Linked DNA regions of Homo sapiens. The protein of the gene in region 3 interacts with the protein of the main gene of each other region in a biochemical or structural test. Each region holds a gene or a part of one and is shown on either strand. Other genes may lie near its edges.

What was found.
Region 1: the proteins of PROS1 (region 3) and C4BPB form a complex in vitro, tested with the Homo sapiens proteins (one study listed by BioGRID).
Region 2: the proteins of PROS1 (region 3) and F8 form a complex in vitro, tested with the Homo sapiens proteins (one study listed by BioGRID).

What each region holds. Positions count from the first base shown.
Region 1 is NC_000001.11:207,083,775-207,091,859, forward strand, and holds the start of C4BPB (C4b-binding protein beta chain isoform 1 precursor), read left to right. Parts: upstream 1-5,085; 5' UTR 5,086-5,172; intron 5,173-5,324; exon of another isoform or gene 5,325-5,707; 5' UTR 5,708-5,757; coding exon 5,758-5,815; intron 5,816-6,533; coding exon 6,534-6,707; intron 6,708-7,869; coding exon 7,870-8,046; intron 8,047-8,085. UniProt on the Homo sapiens protein: Controls the classical pathway of complement activation. It binds as a cofactor to C3b/C4b inactivator (C3bINA), which then hydrolyzes the complement fragment C4b.
Region 2 is NC_000023.11:154,837,724-154,845,334, reverse strand, and holds part of F8 (coagulation factor VIII isoform a preproprotein), read left to right. Parts: intron 1-7,582; coding exon 7,583-7,611. UniProt on the Homo sapiens protein: Factor VIII, along with calcium and phospholipid, acts as a cofactor for F9/factor IXa when it converts F10/factor X to the activated form, factor Xa.
Region 3 is NC_000003.12:93,872,256-93,880,477, forward strand, and holds the end of PROS1 (vitamin K-dependent protein S isoform 2 preproprotein), read right to left. Parts: intron 7,060-8,222; coding exon 6,908-7,059; intron 4,937-6,907; coding exon 4,711-4,936; intron 2,151-4,710; coding exon 1,990-2,150; 3' UTR 796-1,989; downstream 1-795. UniProt on the Homo sapiens protein: Anticoagulant plasma protein; it is a cofactor to activated protein C in the degradation of coagulation factors Va and VIIIa. It helps to prevent coagulation and stimulating fibrinolysis.

The DNA.
Region 1 (8,085 bases), on a different chromosome or scaffold from region 3:
TTTGCAAGCACACTTATGCTTATACCTCATTGGTCAAAATGTAGTCAAGTGGCTACATACAGCTTTCATGCAGGCTGGAATATTTTTATTCCAAGTGGCTTTGTGCCAGTTATAATTAGGGTTTAGTTACCAAAGAAGGGTTCAATAGCTATTGAAGAAGTAGCAACCTGCCTTAGTAGGTAATTGAAACATTGTAGCAGGTCTGAAGAGCTATAACAAGGTGAGCAGTAGCCTTTGAGGAGTTAGGCTGCCATTGCTTTGTAAGAGAGGAAAAAATTATTTTTCCTTCTACCCTCCTAGGTTCTCTGCCTGGGACTTTGTAAATTAGACTAACAAAACAGATTGACAAAAGAAACCCAAACAATTTATTAATGTGTGAAGCACACCCCACCTGGGAGGAACCTCATGATGAGTAACTCAAAGGGGAGTTAGAGCTTAGATTTATATAGCATCTTAACAAAAGAGCAATAACTTTGTAGAGAAGTGACAAGACAAAGGAAAAAACGTTAAGTTTCTAGGGCTGCAAATTTTGAGAAGGCAAATACCTGAAAGAAACTAATGGAGAAGGTTTGTGTAGGTCTGTCTTGACACTGACTTCTTTGTGGACATAAATCTCCCTCCGGAGAAAGGACTTACAGCAGTCCTCATTCCTCAGAAGTTTCTGCTTAGAGTCATCTAAGAGATACTCCAGGAAGGCTTCTTTCTGCTTCCATTGCATCTCATTTGCCTGCAGTTCAAAATAATCTTTATGCCAAAGAGGCATATTTTAAGGTGACTTATTCTTGTCCCCTAAAACTTAGAGTAACAATGCATCAACTCTGATCTTGCCACAGTGCAGGTCCATCTAAACTCATAATTAAAGCTTATTCTACAGTGTTTCATGCACAATTTGATTTTTACAAATTCTTTTTAAAATTTACATTCCCATGGAATCTGCCTAAGGCTACTTTTTGCAAAGCTTATAGCTTGCAGTGAACGCCAAGAATGAGTTCTCAGAAAATTCCAGCTGAGCGGGGGAGGGAGCAGCTCTTCTGAGGAGAGTCCGCCCCAATATCTGCCCACCATGTATTCATTGAAAGGGCTTGTTACACCACAAACATCCACCAGATGGCTTTTTGAGGTCGGGTTGTGAGACACCTGTGGCCTTGTCAAAGCACTCAAACCGCATTCTCAGGAGGCTGTTTTCAGCGTTCCTTATCACACACTCCACTCCTTGTCCTGTTTTCAGGGTCAAGGAATTATATTCTCATGCACAAATAACATACACACAGTGCCTCAGCATTTTTCCATGCCCCAACCTCAAATGCCTTGTACATAAGTTTGAGTATGTGGCTGTGCGCCCCCCACACTTTTCTGGCCCAGGTTGTTTTGGTCAGGCATTGGGGAAACATCAACCCAACGTGTAAAAAACATTAAAAGAGCAATTTAAATCTTTTCTGAATTCTCTTGACAAAGACCAAAGGGAATCCATTCATGACACCCTGTAGAACTTCTTAAAATAGTCTTTCCTGAATTCTCTTAAAATCTTACACACACTGCAATGTGTGTGCCCCTTTTATAACTTCCCACAACTCTTCCCCCAGATTGGGCATTGCTGACTTTTATATTTCTACTCTTCCTTCCTCACCTCCTGATCTCTTCCTTTAACTACCATCTGCCCATTTCTTTGTGTTTTGTTGTTATTTGTTTTTTTGAAACAGGTTCTTGCTTTGTTGCCTACACTGGAGTGCAGTGGTGCAATTACAGCTCACTGAAGCCTTGATCTCCTGGACTCAGGTGATCCTCCTGTCTCAGCCTCCCAAGTATCTAGGACTACAGGCACATGCCACCATGCCTGTCTAATATATATAAAATTTTATTTTTTATAGAGATGAGGTCTTGCTATGCTGGTCTTGAACTCCTGTGCTCAAGCCATCCACCTGCCTCGGCCTCCCAAAGTGTTGAGATTACAGGTGTGAACCACTATGCCCAGCTTGCCCATTCCATTGTAAAGCAATGAAGCCAGTCTGAGAACAACAGTTTCACCTGATCTATTACCCCAGTTCTCCAGGAAACGATCTGGCATAGATCCAACTATCTTTTAATGTTCAAAGGAATAGAAGAGCCTGCTAACGCTCATTTATTAATTCGCCTAATTTTGGATACAAATAGTAAAATATATAAGCCTGTAATCTTTATTTACTCTTGTGGTGTAAATATTCACCCATCAGGAGCCCCAGGAGGACCCTGTCCTGGAGCTGAGGGTAAGCCCTGAAGAATATGCAGGCTTGGAAGGGGAGCAGAGGGAGGCAGGAAGGTGGTGAAGGGGGAGGTGTTGGGGAGAGGAGGAGGGAGGCAGAGAGAAGAGGAGAAATTCCTCTGTCTCTGTCTCTCTCTGATTCACTCTGTCAGTGTCTCCTCTGTCTGTCTTTTGTCTCCATCTCTGTCTCTGATGCTCTTGCTCATCCTGTGGGGAGAGAGGGCTGAGGAGGGAAGAGTGGGATTGGGGCGGGGGACAATGGCAGTGCCAGGTGGAGACTTGTCCTTCAGAGTCCCCAGACACCCCTTCCTAAGCATCTCTATCTCTCTGCATCTATCTCTGATTCTGCCTCTCCCCCAAGACCCACCATATTACTCTCTTTCTCTCTCTCAATCACTCTCTGTTTCTTTCTTTAATCTCTAATTCTAAAATCCAAAAACCTTTGAGACAAAGTTTTCTTCTAATTCATTTGACAGAAAAAACCTGACCCAAACTTTGTGATGCTATTTATTGTCTCTATAGAGCCCACTTAGTGTGAATATTTTTGTATTTTTATATTTTATGGAGAAATATTAGTAAGACAATAGTATAAGTGATATGGTTTCTAAAGTCCTATAGTTCTGAATCTGAAGTAAGCCATTAAGATGAAGAATTACTTGCAATTATTTCCTGTAATACATGTTCTATTTTATGTCCATATTTATGTAGGGCTAAACTAGATTTTCCTTCCTTTTTAAAATAATTTATTGTACAAACATTCTGTATATAAATCTATAAAAGATACTGAAGAACATGCATTCCTCAAGAAGTAGAACATGGGGTATGTAAATAAAAATTATTCAAAGCTTAGGATTAGCAAAAAGAGATCACTGGAGTAAATGCTCAATGGATTCCTGGGCATTTTCTAGCAGGCCCTCTGGAGATGATCTCTGACTGACTTTATTTAAAGTTCTTTTAGAACTCTTTAAGCATAGAGGTTAATTTGCAGTAAATTTATAGGAATGCAAATGACTCTTATCTGAGAACAATGCAAATGATTCCTGGTTATAGTAGAGCAAATATATTTTGTCCATTTTGTTTTAATTACTTTCCACCAGGTAGAAAAGCTAATTGCAAATATTACAGTTTGTTACTCTGTAGGATATTAACCAGTTTTGTATCTATTGGAAAGGTCACTTCAGAATGCTTTTGACTGACTGACTATATGCATTCCTATTCCTCAAATTCTTCTTTGAACCAGTTGTAGCATCTGAATGTTTCCTCATTAATTAATGAGTTGAATTAAATCTTTGATATATATTCATCTTATATTTACTTGTGTCATATTTTTAACTTTTTGAAAATCATGTCTTAGAGGGTGCTTACACTATAGGAATTTGCATATTAGTTAAGAAAAGATAAGACATAAAAAATCATAAGGCAGCATGTGATAAATGGCAAGTGATCATATGGATTTTGGGGGCTGTGGTAGAGTTTCTGGATGACAGTTTTTTTCATTTATTTCTGCATTACTTTCATTCATTTAACAGACAACTGCTTTGCAATATGAAGCACCGTGGAAGGGAATACAAATACAAATCAGACACAAACCCTGTCCTGGAGTTAGCAGTTTCCTGTGGGAATAAAGGGGAGGAAAAAAACACCTTTCCTCTACCATATTGTATTCAGTGGCTGGGACCTGCAAATTAGACTAAGACAGATTAACAGGAGAGAAAATTCTATTTATACATGTAACTTGAGTACATGTGGGAAAACTCAGTGATAAGTAATTCAAAAAGTTGGTTAGAATTGGGGCTTATACATCATCTTAATAGGTGAAGGTGGGGAGAAGAAAGGCACTTACAAGAAAACAGATTATTGGCCGGGTGCGGTGGCTCATGCCTATAATCCCAGCACTTTGGGAGGCCAAGGCGGGTGGATCATTTGAGGTCAGGAGTTCAAGACCAGTTTGGCCAACATGGTGAAACCCCATCTCTACTAAAAATACAAAAATTAGCCAGGCGTGGTAGCGCATGCCTGTAATCTCAGCTACTCGGGAGACTGAGGCACAAGAATGGCCTGAACCTGGCAGGTGGAGGTTGCAGTGAGCCAAGATCATGCCAAGACACCATCTCAAACAAAAAAGAAAACAGATTATTTTTTGGAAAGGCAAGTGGGTTTTCAGGGGAAAAGTAGGAAATTAGAAAGTTTTGTGATAATGTTTGTGTATATAAGTACGAGTGTTCTTTCTGTCTCCTTCAAGGCCATGAAATTTCTCTGGAGAAGGAATTTGAAATATGTTTTACTCATGCTCTCCCCTCCAGGATAGACCTACCCTGAAAAGGAATTTATGGCAACCTTATCTCCAAGGTTGCTGCCTTTAGTCAGATAAGGAAAGCCCCCAAAATCTCTGTTCCTTTCCATATCACTGAATCTCAAATATCTTCAGCTTAAAAGAATCTTAACGCCAAATATTTGGGGGTGGCATATCCTGATTCCTTTCAGGAGAAAGACATAGATTAATCATCACAAACAGTAGTAATGGATGGAGAAGAGAAGAACATTTGCAACCTTACTGTGTCCTTAATGCTTTATTATTCTATTAAAACCTGAAATTTTGTAGGAATTTTTCCCCAGTTTCATAATTACAGCACAGAGAACCAACCAAGGGTTATAGTAGTCACAAGCAAGATGATATGGGATCCCTCAAAACAATTTTACATGCCTTAATTCCTGAGACCAAAGCATTCTCCTCACCTCTCTCTTTACTCATTTGGTTAACTCTGGACTCAGGCCAAATCCTGTCCCTGGAAGAGCCACAAAGTAGGAAGCCTGGGTACAGGCCTGGCAAGCGAGAACAATGTGTCACTGCAGGACTTTGGAGCTCTCAGCTTTGGAGTCAGTTAAGACCAGTTCCTTGCTGGGAAGCCCTAACTCTGGAGGGACAGAGACAGGTAAGGTTAGTTTACTTCCTTGAGCTTTCGTCTTCAGTGCTGCTTACAGCCTTAGGATATCTGGTATTCAGGAAAGGAGGATGAGGTAGCATTCAAAATTGTGTTCTACCTGGGCAAGAACCAGGGATTGACAGCCCGTTCTCTTTCCCCAGTGCTGGCCAGAGTTACAGAAGTTGGACTGTAAACATTGGCAACTATTGACAGAAGTCAAGGTCATGGCAAGACCATTTGGCCCATGTTTGTTGGGGAAGGATAAGCCTGCGTTTCAAAAAGACTGGTCAACTGGATTTGCATTCCCAGAAACCAGGAAATTTCTGAAACTGAGTTTTAAACCTGGCAACTCTTTTACCATCCCTTTGTATTTTTGCAGTTCCTCCCTATACCAGCTTCCTTACAGCTGTTCTGATTTCCTGTCGTAAGATTTTTTCTTTTCATTTTCTCCAGGGAGGGTAAATCAATATAACCTCTTCTCTAGAGAGGAGGTGGTTAGGTTGGTCTTAAGCAGTGTTAGAAGATCTATTTTTTTTCAAACCAGGTGTCTGAGCTGGGTGAATTCCAGCCTGGGGAGAGGACTTTGATCACCAGATGTTTTTTTGGTGTGCGTGCTGTCTTATGGTTGCGTGGCGAGTTTCTGCTTCAGATGGTACGTATGCTTTCCTTCAACTCAGCTTACAGGCATTTGGTGTCCTTTTGCGGTGTTTTGAGGAACTCTGTCTAGGGCTTTAAGGAAGTTTACATTTATAATATCTTTATTCTTCTATTGAAAAATCTCAAATTGGCCTAATGCTCTGCACTCAATAGGAGCTTAGTGTACATTTAATGATAACCCTGATCTCTGAAGTGGGTGGTTACTGTTTTTTTACTTTCCCTTTCTGTTCTGGGAGCAAAAAGAGTACCAATTTCAAAATCCTGGGAGGTCTTACTTGTTATAAACTCCAGGATCGCTATTTGTGTAGGGGACTATTTGTTTAGAAGTGGACAACTTGTGGTTGAATTTGAGTAAAATTCCTGTTATACTTTTGAAAATAAAACTTCGGAATTCCGGCCGGGCGCAGCGGCTCAAGCCTGTAATCCCGGCACTTTGAGAGGCCGAGGTGGGCGGATCACGAGGTCAAGAGATCGAGACCATCCTGGCTAAGACAGTGAAACCCCGTCTCTGCTGAAAATACAAAAAATTAGCTGGGCGTGGTGGCGGGTGCCTGTAGTCCCGGCTACTTGGGAGTAGAATACAGAGTACTTGGGAAGAGCACAGGAATCAGGATCAATAATCCAGCAAAAAGACATGAGAATGGGGAAATCTAATAAGGGTTCTCTGACAGCACATGATATGCCAAGTGAATCTGTTTTCTTTTTTCTTCCAGCAGAGCACTGTCCAGAGCTTCCTCCAGTGGACAATAGCATATTTGTCGCAAAGGAGGTGGAAGGACAGATTCTGGGGACTTACGTTTGTATCAAGGGCTACCACCTGGTAGGAAAGAAGACCCTTTTTTGCAATGCCTCTAAGGAGTGGGATAACACCACTACTGAGTGCCGCTGTAAGTTAGATCTTTCTGTATCTTTGCCCATATTGATATCCTGTTTTACTCCTTCACATCCTACTTCCTATAGGCTGTGGTAAAACTTTATAAGAAAACAAAAATTCTCAATTTCTAGGAGACCTCTTTTAAAGCACTCCAGTGGAGGAGCTTCTCTTGGAAGCTCTATGATCAGATCTTGATCAGTATTAATTCAGTTGAATTAACAGAATCAATTCCCTCTATGGGAAAGAAATAATTTCTTCCAGATATTAGAACTAATTTTTTTTTGCTATAATTTGTTTAACCTTATATTGCTTTAAAAATGTTTATGTTATGGAAAATTTAAAATGTATACAAACGACAGAAGAGTCAAATTCACTCATATAGACTCATCACATAATTTCATCAATTATCCACACATGATAATCTTGTTTCATGTATATCCTCTTTATTATTTTGAAGTAAGTGCATTGTATCATTTTATTTCACCTATCATATAACTTTTGAACTGGGAATAGTTTGTATTCTCAGTTTACCAATGTGATAATTGAGATCCAGCTGACTTGCTCAAGGTCACAAAACTCATTTCTGGTATCCTCTGTGGAGATGGGGAATAATTAATCCATATCCTATTTATTACTATTATTTTTTAAAGAATAGTTGCATTAGTTCTCTTGTATACCTAGAGTAGAGCACACCGATATTATTATCCTTCATTCATATAACCAAACTCATATATCCCTGTGCATTCTCTCCTGTTTTTTTCCATGCCATGGGAAAAAGCACAACAAAATAAAAAATGCTAAGTAAGTGTATATTTGGCTGGTTGAAAGGGAAGGAAATACTTGCTTCAAACATAGTCTCACTATTTTGAGCCATGCTTAATATAACAGTACAATAAACATACGATTGGTAACTTTCAGTTACGTGATTAATTACTTTCAGTTGCCAATTCATGTTGTTCTTGTGCATGACAAAGCTCTTTTGGGCTGTACTTAGGTCAATCTCCTCTTTTTTTCATTCTGCATTGATATGGTAGTACCATGTACTTCACTCAATTAAAAATGTGCAGTATTAACTCTAATTTGCTGTTTTCTCACTGAAGACTGAGGAGGTCTGGCCTTTGCTGTGTTGGGCTTCAGCTTTGCCCTTTCAGCTTATTGCTTATTTTCTTCTTCAGTGGGCCACTGTCCTGATCCTGTGCTGGTGAATGGAGAGTTCAGTTCTTCAGGGCCTGTGAATGTAAGTGACAAAATCACGTTTATGTGCAATGACCACTACATCCTCAAGGGCAGCAATCGGAGCCAGTGTCTAGAGGACCACACCTGGGCACCTCCCTTTCCCATCTGCAAAAGTAGTAAGTACAAGAGAAACCATCAAGGATCCCCAAAATACT
Region 2 (7,611 bases), on a different chromosome or scaffold from region 3:
AAAGATGGAATCCTCCCTAACTCATTTTATGAGGCCAGCATCATCCTGATACCAAAGCCTGGCAGAGAAACAACAAAAAAAGAGAATTTTAGACCAATATCCCTGATGAACATTGATGCAAAAATCCTCAATAAAATACTGGCAAACCAAATCCAGCAGCACATCAAAAAGCTTATCCACCATGATCAAGTGGGCTTCATCTCTGGGATGCAAGGCTGGTTCAACATACGAAAATCAATAAACGTAATCCAGCATATAAACAGAACCAAAGACAAAAACCACATGATTATCTCAATAGATGCAGAAAAGGCCTTTGACAAAATTCAACAACACTTCATGCTAAAAACTCTCAATAAATTAGGTATTGATGGGACGTATCTCAAAATAATAAGAGCTATTTATGACAAACCCACAGCCAATATCATACTGAATGGGCAAAAACTGGAAGCATTCCCTTTGAAAACTGGCACAAGACAGGGATGCCCTCTCTCACCACTCCTATTCAACATAGTGTTGGAAGTTCTGGCCAGGGCAATCAGGCAGGAGAAAGAAATAAAGGGTATTCAATTAGGAAAAGAGGAAGTCAAATTGTCCCTGTTCGCAGACGACATGATTGTATATCTAGAAAACACCATTGTCTCAGCCCAAAATCTCCTTATGCTGATAAGCAACTTCAGCAAAGTCTCAGGATACAAAATCAATGTGCAAAAATCACAAGCATTCTTATACACCAACAACAGACAAACAGAGAGCCAAATCATGAGTGAACTCCCATTCACAATTGCTTCAAAGAGAATAAAATACCTAGGAATCCAACTTACAAGGGATATGAAGGACCTCTTCAAGGAGAACTACAAACCACTGCTCAATGAAATAAAAGGGGATACAAACAAATGGAAGAACATTCCATGCTCATGGGTAGGAAGAATCAATATTGTGAAAATGGCCATACTGCCCAAGGTATTTTATAGATTCAATGCCATCCCCATCATGCTACCAATGACTTTCTTTACAGAATTCTAAAAAACTATTTTAAAGTTCATTTGGAACCAAAAAAGAGCCCGCATTGCCAAGTCAATCCTAAGCCAAAAGAACAAAGCTGGAGGCATCACGCTACCTGACTTCAAACTATACTACACGGCTACAGTAACCAAAACAGCATGGTACTGGTACCAAAACAGAGATATAGACCAATGGAACAGAACAGAGCCCTCAGAAGTAATACCACACATCTACAACCATCTGATCTTTGACAAACCTGACAAAAACAAGAAATGGGGAAAGGATTCCCTATTGAATAAATGGTGCTGGGAAAACTGGCTAGCCATATGTAGAAAGCTGAAACTGGATCCCTTCCTTACACCTTATACAAAAATTAATTCAAGATGGATTAAAGACTTAAATGTTAGACCTAAAACCATAAAAACCCTAGAAGAAAACCTAGGCAATACCATTCAGGACATAGGCATGGGCAAGAACTTCATGTCTAAAACACCAAAAGCAATGGCAACAAAAGCCAAAATTGACAAATGGGATCTAATGAAACTAAAGAGCTTCCGCACAGCAAAAGAAACTACCATCCCAGTGAACAGGCGAGCTACAAATTGGGAGAAAATGTTTGCAATCTATTCATCTGACAAAGGGCTAATATCCAGAATCTACGAAGAACTCAAACAAACTTACAAGAAAAAAAGACCCCATCAAAAAGTGGGTGAAGGATATAAACAGACACTTCTCAAAAGAAGACATTTATGCAGCCAACAGATACATGAAAAAATGCTCATCATCACTGGCCATCAGAGAAATGCAAATCAAAACCACAGTGAGATACCATCTCACACCAGTTAGAATGGCGATCATTAAAAAGTCAGGAAACAACAGGTGCTGGAGAGGATGTGGAGAAATAGGAACGCTTTTACACTGTTGGTGGGACTGTAAACTAGTTCAACAATTGTGGAAGACAGTGTGGCGATTCCTCAAGGATCTAGAACTAGAAATACCATTTGACCCAGCCATCCCATTACTGGGTATGTACCCAAAGGATTATAAATCATGCTGCTATAAAGACACATGCACACGTATGTTTATTGCGGCACTATTCACAATAGCAAAGACTTGGAACCAACCCAAATGTCCATCAATGATAGACTGGATTAAGAAAATGTGGCACATATACACCATGGAATACTATGCAGCCATAAAAAGGATCTGTTCATGTCCTTTGTAGGGACATGGATGAAGCTGGAAACCATCATTCTCAAAAACTATCACAAGGACAAAAAACCAAACACCGCATGTTCTCACTCGTAGGTGGGAATTGAACAATAAGAACACTTGGACACAGGTAGGGGAACATCACACACCGGGGCCTGTCATGGGGTGGGTGGACAGGGGAGGGATAGCATTAGGAGATATACCTAATGTAAATGACGAGTTAATGGGTGCAGCACACCAACATGGCACATGTATACATATGTAACAAACCTGCACGTTGTGCACATGTACCCTAGAACTTACAGTATAATAAAAAAAAAGAAATTGCAAAATTACACATTCTTTGTAAGCACACAAAGGAAACATGTTAGAATTTTCCATTTTAAGCTACAAATAAGCTACAAATAAAGTAGTCTCAAATTTCAGATAATATAAAACATGTTTTCTGGTCACAATACAATTAAAGTTGATATAAATAAGAAAGATAACTATAAAATCTTCCTATGTTAGAATCAAGAACTATACTTTTAAACCCATGTGTCAAATAAGAAATCATAAATTAGAAAATATTTTAAACTGAATGATAACAAGGCATGACATATTAAAATGTGGGAATCAGCTAAAGCAATATTTAGAAAGAAATGTATAGCGTTAAAAACATATATTGGAAGAGAAGAAAGCCTGACAATTAATGAGCTAAGGTATGTCTCAAGAAGCTAGTGAAACAGCAAAATAAACCAAAAGGAAGTAGAAGCAAGGAAATAATAAAGATATGAAGTAAATGAAGTAAAAAAGAAACATACAATAGAGAGAATAAAGAAAACCAAAAGTTGGTTCCTTGAAAATTGACAAACTTCTGGCAAGAGCAATCAAGATGAAAAGAAGGCACAAATAATATCAGAAACTTTAAAAAACTGGACATCAATAAAGATCCCACAAAAATTTCTGCCAATATAAAAATATAAAAAATGAGGATACTTATTAATATTAAATGTTCTTTCTTGTTGTATTTACCAGGGATTAATCCATTTTACCTAATTTTCCAAACTTAGTGTTAAAAGGTTATTAATTTAAAAAATCCAGATCCAGATGGCTACACTAACTATATTCTACCAATTTTTCAAAGGAGAAATAATATTAACCTTGCAAAAATTCTTTCAGAAAATGGAAAAAGATGGAATGTTATTCAATTATCTTATGATAATAGCATAACCTTGACAACCAAACCGAACAAGAACAATATTAGAAAGGAAGATAATAGGCCCGTTTTATTCATAAACATAAATCCCAAACAAAATATTAGCAATATGGATCCAAATTGGATTTATGCTAGGAATGCAAGTTTGGCTTATACATTAGAAAACTGATATAATTTATCACAGTGACAGACTGAAGGATTATACATATTGGCTGTCCTAAGCAGTGCAATAAGATGAGAAAAAGAAGGAAAATATGTAAGGATTGAATATGATGAAACAAACTCATTGTATGTGGAAGATATGATGGCATAGATAGAAAATCCAAAGGAATTTATATATAAATTATTAGAATTTTTAAAATTTTTCAAGCTTGCTGAAAACAAAATAAATACCAAAATTAATTGTATTTCTGTATACCTGAAACAGTTGGAAAAATAGTTTTAAATAGCATTTAAAAATTCCAAGCAGGAGTTGCACATTCCTGTCAGATAATGGCAGCTGCCTAAATCTCTCCACAGTCTTCAAAAACCATACATACACATACACACACAATTTTAAATTATGACTAAAACCACCCATAACCCATCTATAGAATAACCAGAAGACAAAAAGTACTATAAGTTTATATTTACAAGTAGAAAATAAATATATAAATCTAGCCAACCTTGCTCCAGAGAGAAACCCTGTCTCAAAAAAAAAAAAAAAAAAAAAAAGAAGAAAGCAAATGTTGGAAATTAACTGTCCTATAAAAACAAAAGTGAATTACTAAATCACAAGACCCACAAACCTCTTTGGTCACATCTATTAAATAAATTACACTTCCATTTATCAACAGTAGAGGGTACTCCTGGCTAAGAAACCTAGTAAGCCACCCAGCCCTCATGTCTGCCTGCATAAATCACCTCTTATTGCTGAAACAAGAAAATGTAAGGAATTTCTAAATGAACAGAAAATAGCATATGAAGCAGATGGTATTAATGTTCTTGAGTTTTTATTCCCTCTTTCCTTGAAAACCTCATCAACTTTAGGCATGGCCGTACGGCTCATCTTGATCAATAGAATGTGATTGGACATGACATATATACCACTTCCAAATAGAAGCTTTAAATGTGATTTTGTGTTTGACACACTCTTTTGTGCCTCTGCTCCAGGCTCCAGACTTTAAGCCTCTAGAACGATAAGTGAATAAATTTCTTTTGTTTTAAAGGCACCAAGTGTGTGGTGAATTTGTTACAGTAGCCCTAGAAATCTAATACTAACAAAAAGAATGTTAGAGTTGAATTAGAAGTGTCAGTGAGAACTTAGGAATTTAAAAAATCATATTCTTAGCACTGTTCACTGAGGGAATCTAGAAGTAATTACACTGCAGTAATAACGAGCCCATCCCATGCCCAAATCTTGGTCTCTAACTACCATTTTCCAGTCAAAAGAATCTGAGCTCCCTAGAGAAATGACTTTTTCAAGGCTGGATCAAGGAAACTGCCAGGCAATCTTAGATGATCTTGGTGATCTTGATGTGCCAGAAGATTAATGGGATCATGTGAAAAGAACACAGAAACTGGTCTGAAGGGCTTCCTGTTGGCCAGATTTGAGACAATTTGAGCATCAAAAGGAATAATGAGGGTAATGGATCATAACTGGAAAATCAGTTTGCAACCATCAATGTACTTACTATTGAATACTTGTAAAGAACTTTAAGGGTTGCTAATACCATTGGATAAAAGCTTGTTGTGAAACAGAATATTTGCATGGTCTCAAAGTCTCACTCCACAGATTGTTAGGAAAGGGAAAGGGTTACCTTTATAAATATAGAGATTAGGTGGACATCTTAACCAAGTGATCAAACTTAGCATCATCAATAATGGGACAATCTGGCATCGCATGCCCCCTGATTTAATGCAGTAAGGATTAAGTCTAACAAAAGATGTACAAAGCCTCCAAATACAGCGTAAACATTTGTAAAATAATCTCAGAACAGGGACCTTAATGTTTCTCAAAAATTTTTCCAAATACAGAACTTTATTTCTATAGATGTTTATGGTATATTTGCCATGCTATATACATTATGCTATATATTCTATGTGCTGAAGATACAACAATGACCAAGGTCTTTGCCCTTGTGGAACTGACATTTGGTGGCGGAGACAGAGGAAACAGTCAATAAGCATGTAAAGAGATAAAGGAAAAGATACTGAATGCTACAAAGGAAACAAATAAGTTGAGATTTAGAACAAAAAAGAGTCCTATTTTACAAGAGGAATAATGAGGAAGACCTTTCTAAAGAGGTAGCTCAGCACTTTGGGAGGCCGAGGCGGGTGGATCACGAGGTCAGGAGATCAAGACCATCCTGGCTAACACAGTGAAACCCCATCTCTACTAAAAATACAAAAAATGAGCCGGGCATGGTGGCGGGCACCTGTAGTCCCAGCTACTTGGGAGGCTGAGGCAGGAGAATGGCGTGAACCCGGGAGGCGGAGCTTGCAGTGAGCCGAGATGGTGCCACTGCACTCCAGCCTGGGCGACAGAGCGAGACTCCGTCTCAAAAAAAAAAAAAAAAATTGAGGCAGAATTTCGCTATGTTGCCTAGGCTTGTCTCAAACTCCTGGGCTCAAGCAATCCTCCTGCCTCAGCCTGCTGAGTAGCTGGGACTCCAGGGGCATGCCACTATGCTTAGTTTAAGAGGTGGTATTTAAACTGAGACCCGAAGGGTAAAAAACATGGATAAAAGAAGAAACAGAAGGGGTAAGAGCCTTCCAAGCAGAGGGAATCACATATACAAAGGCTCTCATGTTAAATAAAACAAGAGTTGACATTGTTGAGAAACTGAAAGATCAGCTCATCTGCGATGCGGTAAAATAGGAGGAATGCAGTGGGAGAACAGATCAGAGACTTGGGCAGGGGCTATATTAGGCAGAACTTGGAGACCAGAGTAAGGGGGCCAAGGTGGGAACAGACCGATTAAATTGGCATCTCTTGGGGGGGTGGGGGGGTGGGGAACTTACCCATGCATCATTTTTTAAAAGCTCCAAAGGCGATTCCAATAAGCAGCCAGGGTTGGGAACCTAGGGGGAAAATGTAGCTAGATGAATGAAGATGGCCCAAACGTCTTTTGTTCTGATAGCTAAACTCTCTGTAGGATCACAGTGTTACTTCACAGTGCATTTGCCAGGAAAAGTCTCTTCCCATTTGGAATCCGAAGTAAAACTGACACCACACTTGAAGATGCCAGGATTGTTAGAGGAAAATGTCACCCAATAGCTCCAGGAAGCAGGAGCCCTACTGTTGCTGTTTAACCACTTCTTTCCCATTTTGGTGGCAAGTTGCCTCCTTTTACACAAACTGCCTCAGGAGATCCTAAAGATATCATGGTGTCTGTCTGTCCTTGCAAGAGCATGCATTATGGTAGGACATTGCCTTCATTCTGTTCCTTTTTCTCCAAGACTCTTGCTTATTCTCACCATTTGGCTGGACTTTCTACTGTAGGATTACCTCGGAATCCACACAAAACCCACAGGGTTTCAGAGTTGCCTTGAATTACACGTTTTGAACATTCAGATCTTCATTTTCCCAAACATCCACCCAGTTATAGGTGACCTTTGCTCCAAAGTCCTGGAGTAGCAAGGTGCCTTGAGTCTTAGACTCTTCCCACTTCTTTCTCTCTTCTGCATCCCCTCCTGCCAAGGTTGCCCAGCCACACTAAATTGCATGCCTTGCTGTGTTGCATTCGTTATCATTCTAAAGTTGTCACCAACATGTGCGAAACCAGTTTATCTAATAACGATAGCTACCATTTTCTGAGCTCTTGCCATGTACTCCTCTTGCCACAGCAAATGCATTGACAAGGGAGTCTGCTGGCCAAAGCCTGACTCTCATCTCCAGATGGTCCAACACAGATGCTGTGTGTGACCCAGGACAAAGCACTTAATGTCACTGAGGTTTGGGAAGTGGGTGAGAACACTGTAGATATAAGGCCTAGCTAGAGTGAAGGCCTCCAAAGCAGGGTGCTCTTAATTCTAGATGTCCCAGATGCGTAGGACAGAGTCATCTAGTCATCTTCCAGGGTTTAATCCTGGACTACTGGAAACAACTAGAAGTGAGAAAAGCGTCTGTGCTTTGCAGTGACCATTGTCCTGTCAGACAACCAATAAATGCTATCTTTCCTCTTTCAGGTTTTTCAGGGAAATCAAGACTCCTTCAC
Region 3 (8,222 bases):
GATTAACCATTGCTTTCACTGATCCATCACTGACCGCTGCAAATGGTTAAGTTCTATTACCATCTCACATAACATGTTCAAAAAGTAAAAAGAAAAAAGAAAGCTTTTTCAAAAGGTGAATTCTAAGGGACTCTGTAATGGCCCTGTTATTTGGAGTTTTTTTTACTTATATACAAAGCTGAAATGGCACCAAATATCCACTTTGCCTTGTTCTCTACCAACTCTTTAAAAGTAGGAATCTATATTTCTTGGCAAAGTTCAAAACTAAACATCAATCAAAGATTCTTAGCCATAGGTCTAGACCCTCTCTCTAGGCATGTATGAGCACATCTCAAAGGTAGATGAAATTTATAAATGCGTCTCTGGAGCCTCTACGAGCATCATTGCATGTGGGAAGGTTTCTGCTCCTGATGTGAAAGGTAGAATTGATCCCTATATCTGACCTGTATGTGGCATAATCAAATGAAAAGCAGGGAACTCCGCCCCTTTCTTTCACTTTTTTTTCCCTCTCTCATGTATGTTTTCTCTGTTTTTCTTTTTCCTTGCTCTTTTACATGAATGTAATTATCAATAGTCACTTGCTGATATTCATCCCCCATAGTACCTGGTGGCAATTGGGAAACAAATTATATTTAGCAAGACAATTTATGGTTTGTGTCAAAAGATACATGTTACTTTTGCTTCTCTTCACCTTCTGAGCTCCAGTCTACCACCCAACCATAAATATTATTCAAATATTGGAGCTTTATCTGTCTTTTAACTGAAGAACTACTTCGTTGTATGAAGAGTTAAATGTCTATTATGTAATTTTGTTTTATTCAAACAGTTGATATAATAAAGATATTCACATGCATTTTAAAATTATACACCGATTTATTATAAGTGATATAAAATACAGTGAAAAGAATTTATTGTTAAAAACTGTCAGTGAAACATCTGATACACATCTGGCTATGAATGGTAGATTCAAACGTGATAAAACTGCCACTTGAAATGCATCACAGTACCAGCAGGCACGTGGCAATCTTACCTCCTTACTTCTTTGATTACAATGATACGATATTCACTATATCCCTCTGTGGTTGTCCTTTTGTTAAAATTTGTTCTGGTTTTCATAGTTCCTTTTGTACTTCAACAATCACATTTTGGCAACTTACTCTGGTAATTAAAAGTTGGATTCAAGGAAAACTATGAACTCCCACATTTGTTCATTCTCCTTTCCATCCCTGAATTCTGTCTTTTGTAATGTAGACCTTGTGTGACCCACACAGCAAAATTTAAAAAATGTACCCACTTCAGATTTCCCCACCTATCCAACCTAATCTGATATCTCATCCTGACAGACTGCAGCTGCCAAGAAGAAGATTCCTGTGCTGCTCTCAGGAAAATATGTCCCACTTGTTTTCTAATTCAATAAAGATACTGGTTTAAATGTGAAGCCACACAAGAGAAAGATGAAGCCAAAGCTGTTCCCCCTGAGGAATTGTTTTGAAATAAGGCATTAGGACCCTCCATTCAATTCATATTTAATAGACCACCATCTCTTCTGCCTTCATCAGGAAAAAAACAAAAACATAAACAAAATAGTATCTGCCTATGATTAATAGTATTTAATTACACGCACTTTTGTTTGAGTTTACTTCCTTGCTTTCTGAAAAAAACATAGGTATTTAGACACTAGTTCATGATGATAAAATTAAAATTTAGTTTTACAAACAAAAATTGAAACTGTCATTTGTAGGAAAAAAATTCAAATTTAAAATTGTTATTTTTCACTATTCTTAGATAGCAAGAGAAGTAAGAATTTCTTTACTGTGATTTATATCACAACAGAATTTTTTTCCTTGACAAAGGACCTTTTAAAAATCCCAGGAAAGGACCACAAAATAATCAAAGACTGCACATTGTAAATAAAACCCTTCAGCTGTTATTGAAACATAAGTATAATTACACACAAGGAAAAGGTATTATAAGCAGAGAAAAGATGCCTTAAGAATTCTTTGTCTTTTTCCAAACTGATGGACATGAGTGAGCTCTAATATCATTATGTTTAGAAATGGCTTCATCCAGATCCAACTGTACACCATTAATATTCACTTCCATGCAGCCATTATAAAAGGCATTCACTGGTGTGGCACTGAATGGAACATCTGTAAAAGGAAAATATTAGAATATTAGTCCAAGACTTTTAGCATCTTGTTTGTTTACAGTGAGAGAAGTCATTCAGACTTCCTGTTTCCAACCAAATTCTAATCCTAAAGGAAAAGTTAATAGTGAAATTCTATTCCATAAATACATGTTAAGTGACGCCGATATACATGTTACTGTACTTCATTGAATTCAGCATGTCATGAGTTCCTCAGATTTCATAAACACAATTAGTTCCATTTAAACTTAAACACATTTGAGGGAGAGTAGAAACAAGCATATTCTTGTGATATTCTATTTTTATTATACAAATAACATACTATTTTCTCTTTAAACTTAAGCAACAGTTTAAGCATTGTTAAATCATTTTCTTAACTCCAAATTATAGCTACTTGGGAATCTCTTTTAAATGTCATGATCAATATATCTCTTTTATTATTGTTGGAATAAAAGCAGATTTCTGTATTTTTCCAAAGAAACAATTTTTTTGTTGAGCATACAATAGGTCATGATACAGGATTCACTTTCATGTACTATTTAGAGTTCCTAAAAATAACAATTTTCCTTCCTCTTTTTTGGCCTCTCCTCTCCATTAATCTTAACTCACAATGGATATTCTTTAGCCCTTATTCTTCATCTTCAGTACCTTATGCCAAAAAAAAACCTTTAAATTTTCAACTTCTAACTTGCCAACACAGTGAATAAAGTTCCTACTTTACTATGACTGTGAGCTCATAGCATTTGTTAAGAATCCCTTTCAAGTTGGGCTAAACATCATAGATTATGCCACTTTTCCTTTTTTGAGAAAAGAAATTACTCAAATTCATTCGATTTTGAGGAAAGAAATTACTCAAAATCATTCATTTCTCTTGGGTTTTAGTACTTCACATGGAATTTTACATGCCTACTTTGCATGTAATTAATAATTTACCCATCTCACAGTTTATACTCTTAATATCTCAATATTTAGCTCCTCTCAAATCTTCCCCACTCTTTCTCTCAAGACATTTTGCCTGAAGTTAGTCCTCAGTGCTGTTGCCAAAATCCCGAAACCACTGAAATTTTGATAATTCTACTTCTTTTAAACTCTTTGTTGGTTTGATTTCCTAAAATTGCATTCAACTAACTTGTGGATAAGGTAGTAGGTAGATTTCAATATAGAATTTATTCATTTAAACTATAATTTTACTCCCTAATAATTAGGCATGCTCACTACTTACCTCTATCTATCTATCTATCTATCTATCTATCTATCTATCTATCTATCTATCTATCATCTATCTATCTGTCTGTCTTTCTATAGCTTTTAAAGCCTATTTACTTCTATTTCCCAAAACCCCAGATACAATTTCCATATATGGGAAATCAAGACCATGAGCAGTTTAAGCAGTATATTGAAGGTTATCAGAGGTCCAGACATCAAACTCAGAATTCTCCCCATGAGAATAAATTGCAAATGTCATCTGAAAATGCTTCTAAATAACTTTCTGCCTCTAATTTTCCATTTAAAGTGAAATATTGGTGCCAATTTCATATTTTCCAATATTCAGTTAAAGATGAATCTGTTTTTCCTCCAGTTTTCCCCATCTTGGTAAATGGAATCTCCATCCATGCAACTGCTCATGCCAGATACCTAAAAGTCATCCTTATACCTGTCTTTCAGTTATTAAATCCTATTAATTTTGTTTCTAACACATATCTCCGATCTATTTACTGTCCATCATCTTCATTGTTATCACCCTGGTCCTGCAGCTTCCTCAGTTTCCTCATCTGTAAAATGGGGATAATAATAGCACTTACCTCACTGGACTATTTTGAAAATTAAACAAGTGGATATATTTGAAGCACGTTAAACAGTGCCCAGACTGTTTGTTTTGCAATAGTTGATGGTAGTTAGATACTACAACTATTGTCACTGCTCACGCCTGTAATCCCAGCACTTTGGGAGGCCGAGGCGAGCGGATCGCAAGGTCAGGAGATCAAGACCATCCTGGTTAACACGGTGAAACCCCCTCTCTACTAAAAATACAAAAAGATTAGCCGGGTGTGGTGGCGGGCACCTGTAGTCCCAGCTACTCGGGAGGTTGAGGCAGGAGAATGGCGTGAACCCAGGAGGCGGAGCTTGCAGTGAGCCGAGATCGTGCCACTGCACTCCAGCCTGGGCGACAGAGCCAGACTCCATCTCAAAAAAAAAAAAAAAAAAAAAAAAAGCTGGATAAATGATAAGATGAACTGAATAATAGATGAATAAATATTGGGTAAATTAGAACAAATATTGAACTTATAAGACTATTGTGATGATGAAATAAAATAACATATCCTTTCTGGCTGGGATAGCCAAATGAAGCAAAACTTGATCAGCCTTAGTTCAACATTTTTAAACTAAACAAAACAAAACAAAAATATGCCAATAAAATGTCGGTACTAGCCCCTAGAAAAAGAATAATGAATACTGGATTTTATGTTCCCTTCTGATGCTTTTTTACTATAATTATATATTTAAAATATTATCGGTTTGATTAAAATATACTTTTTAAAACTGAAGAAAAAGTAAGCAGATACCTGGAAGGCCACCCAGGTATGTGGCCACTTTTGCTTTCATTGCTTTGTCCAAGACGGCAAGTTGTCTTTGAAGGTCTTCATGGGAGATGGTTTCTATTTTAAGTGGTGTCGACAACTCCAGATTGTTTCTGTTGACTCTAAATTCCAGATGAGATTGTTGATCGGAACATAGACTTAGGGCCTGTATCCGATATATTACAGTATTTTCAACAGATAACAGAATATCCTGAAGAGCAGAGCAAAGATTCAATATAAGCAAGGAGTAAGAGTAATGCTGCTTAAGAGTGACTTTTGAGTTTTTGAAAGTCAAAAACTAAATTTCAATAAGGAAAGAAAATGTATGATAGAGCCTCTAAATTTAAGGGAAAAATCACTAATTATTATAAGACTAATTTATAATAATTATGACTAAAATTTAAAATACACATTAGTTTTACAAACTCAAAGTTTAGCTAAAATATAAATGTATACTGGTTTCTGAAAATTCCGTAAAACAACCGGAACCTATAGGAGTGTCTTATATCTTTCTGTTTATGAGCCTTCCTAATTTCCAAGTTTACATATGAAAAGGGAAGGAGTTGAATCACTCTTTGTTGAGAAAAGACTTGGGAAATTTAAAATGCTTTAGTAAGCATATGCCAGCAGGACTAACAGGTTTCTTTGTGCCACACAAGCAATCCTACAGACTTGGGATAAAATAAATGAAGAGGCCCTGAGAAAGAAAAACCAGGGATTGCCACCAGCACGTTATAGAACATTTACCAGAAGATTCTACAGAAAGAAAATGTGTTCATTCTGCTGAACCTTTCAAACTGCCGTTATGCCTAAATTACTCAATGTGTTGAGTGTGATCTCTTCATATAGCTTATATGGCATAGAGGAAAGTGATAAAAACATAATCAGAAATGTTTATTTAGGAATCCAAGATACCTATTTTAAGTGAAAAGACTAACTTTGCAAATATAGGTTACTTGAGGAAATCTGTTATTGTGTTGTACATGTCCGTATCCTTAAACTCATTAAAAGAGATTGTCAATAAAGAAAATGCTCCAAAATGATCAATGATATCTGGAATAATGTTATGAAATATTGCATAGACCTTGAGAAGGAAATCTGACATGCAAAGAAAGAACCACGGAGGCAAACACTCAAAGGATAAATTAAATATCAAAGACATGGCATGCGTTAACCTCCTCCACTGCATGAATGTAGTGTTTAAGATAAGAATTCCATTTTGTTTAAAAAGAAAAACAAACTAGCAAACAAAAAACCCCTGAAATCCAAATGTAGAAAGCTCCTTAAAGGCAGGAGATTAAAACAAAAACAAAAACAAAAAAAAACTCATCAGGATATTTTTAGGTTACTTATGGTTAACCACCAGAAACTTCCCATCCTCCTCCCTGAATCATACTTTAAGTTGCAAACAGCATAACTTGTTTTACTACAATAGACATTATTCAACCACAGGTCTCTTTCTAAAATCTACTGAAAGCATCCAAGTCAGCCTTGGCATAAACATCAGCTTCTTGCTGTAACTTGTTAGAATGCACTGTGGATGACACATAGACAGAACGACTATGCTCTAATAGAAGTCTGAATAATACAGATTTTCTGATAACCCTCATATTTCCTTTCATCTAAGGCTTTTTCGTGTTCTTCCTCCTAATTTCAAATAAGAGTTGCCAGTAAGAAACCAAGTGGACCAGTTTTAACTTTCTCTCTTTTTTCCTAACTTACTCTTGGGAGAAAAGATTAAGAGTGTAAGAAAGAACAAAACATTATAATTAAGCACTGAATATCTGACAGTGCACTGTAATTAGACTCACTTCTATGTTGACAGTACAGACTAATTCCCACAACACATAAAGTATTCTTAATAAGGGTGGATCTCTATGTACTCGGATGGCTCCAAGCAGCCTGTGTGAGAGTCTGCCTAATCTTAGGTATAGATGCAGTAGGTTTTTCATTCCTCCCTCCCCTTACTTCTTCATTCAGACCTTGGAAACAAGCCAGAAAAAAAGTAACAATAATAGACATTTTTTGAGTCCTTAATGATGTGCTGGAGATTGTGCCAAACACTTTACATAAGTTACTTTATTTAATCTTCAAAATAGTCCTTTGAGGTAAATACTGCTATGTATACATTTTAAAAAATGAAAAGAAAAACAAGGCTTATATAGGTTTAGAGTTAAGTTACCTGTGATTTTTCAGAGGTGGAGTCCACCAAGGACACAGCAAAGGGCACTGTGTTGTTACCAGAAACCAAGGCAAGCATAACACCAGTGCCCGTGGATGGACGAATATTCAAGGTCACATTTACATGCCAACCCTCAGCACTGGATACATTATCTATTTAAAATAATGAAACAGAAGCATGATCAATGCACTCCTAAAGTGCATCAGAAGGAATTATTATTAACACAGTCCAGGTAATATTCAAAACTATCTTGTGTAATACTATTTCCATTCCCTTTCTCAATGATCTATATAACCTAGGCAAAACAAAACAAACTTTTTTGTAATGCAGGCAAGAAACATGCAAATGGAGTACCATCTTCCCGTTCTTCCTAGAAGAGAATTCTGGATTGTGGTGTTAAGGATTATCATGGATTTTCCCAGTTTGCTCTTTAACAGTGCTTCCTTCTCCCTTGCACATTCACCAATGCTCAAATCTCAGAGTGGTCATATTTCCAAGCACACGTTTGAAAATTCAACAAATTTACTGTAATAATTTAGGGAAAATCTGGGTACAGTTGCCATCATCACTCCAAAGGATAAATATGATCTATATACATAGGAGAGTTGGATAGTTCGATACTAGAGAAATACACTGACATCAGCAGTTAGTTTTGAAATCAGAATAGGAACCCTTGTTTTGTGAATCTCTTGTCATAATCCTTCACATTCTCTTTCTTAATTACTAGGTTAATTGTCTATCCCACTAACATGCAAGCTCTAGGAGGTATATATCTCTATCATTGCTTTGTTTTCCCCAGCACTCACTCAATAGATATTTGTTGAATTAATATGTTTCCAGAATAGTTGGATTACTAAAAATATTAGTTCATAATCTGAATGAAGTCTTCCTCATTTAATATGATGTAACATACAGCAAAGCCCAAATACCACACGGAGCCCTTGAAAGGGTAAATGTGAATAAGGAAAATCATTTTCCTTTGACAAGATGTTCTTCCACTTAGCCACATATAATGTCACTGTTTTTCATTATAATCCTGTAACTCCCATCCAGAAGAAAAAAAATATATAGACCGGGTACGGTGGCACATGCCTGTAATCCTAGCACTTTGGAATTGCCTGAGCTCAGGAGTTCGAGACCAGCCTGGGCAACATGGTGAAACATCTCTACTGAAAAAAAAATACAAAAAATTAGCCGAGCATGGTGGTGTATACCTGTAGTCCCAGCTACAACTCGGGAGGCTTGATTCAGGAGAATCGCTTGAACTCAGGAGGCAGAGGTTGCAGTGAGCTGAGATCACGCCACTGCACTCCAG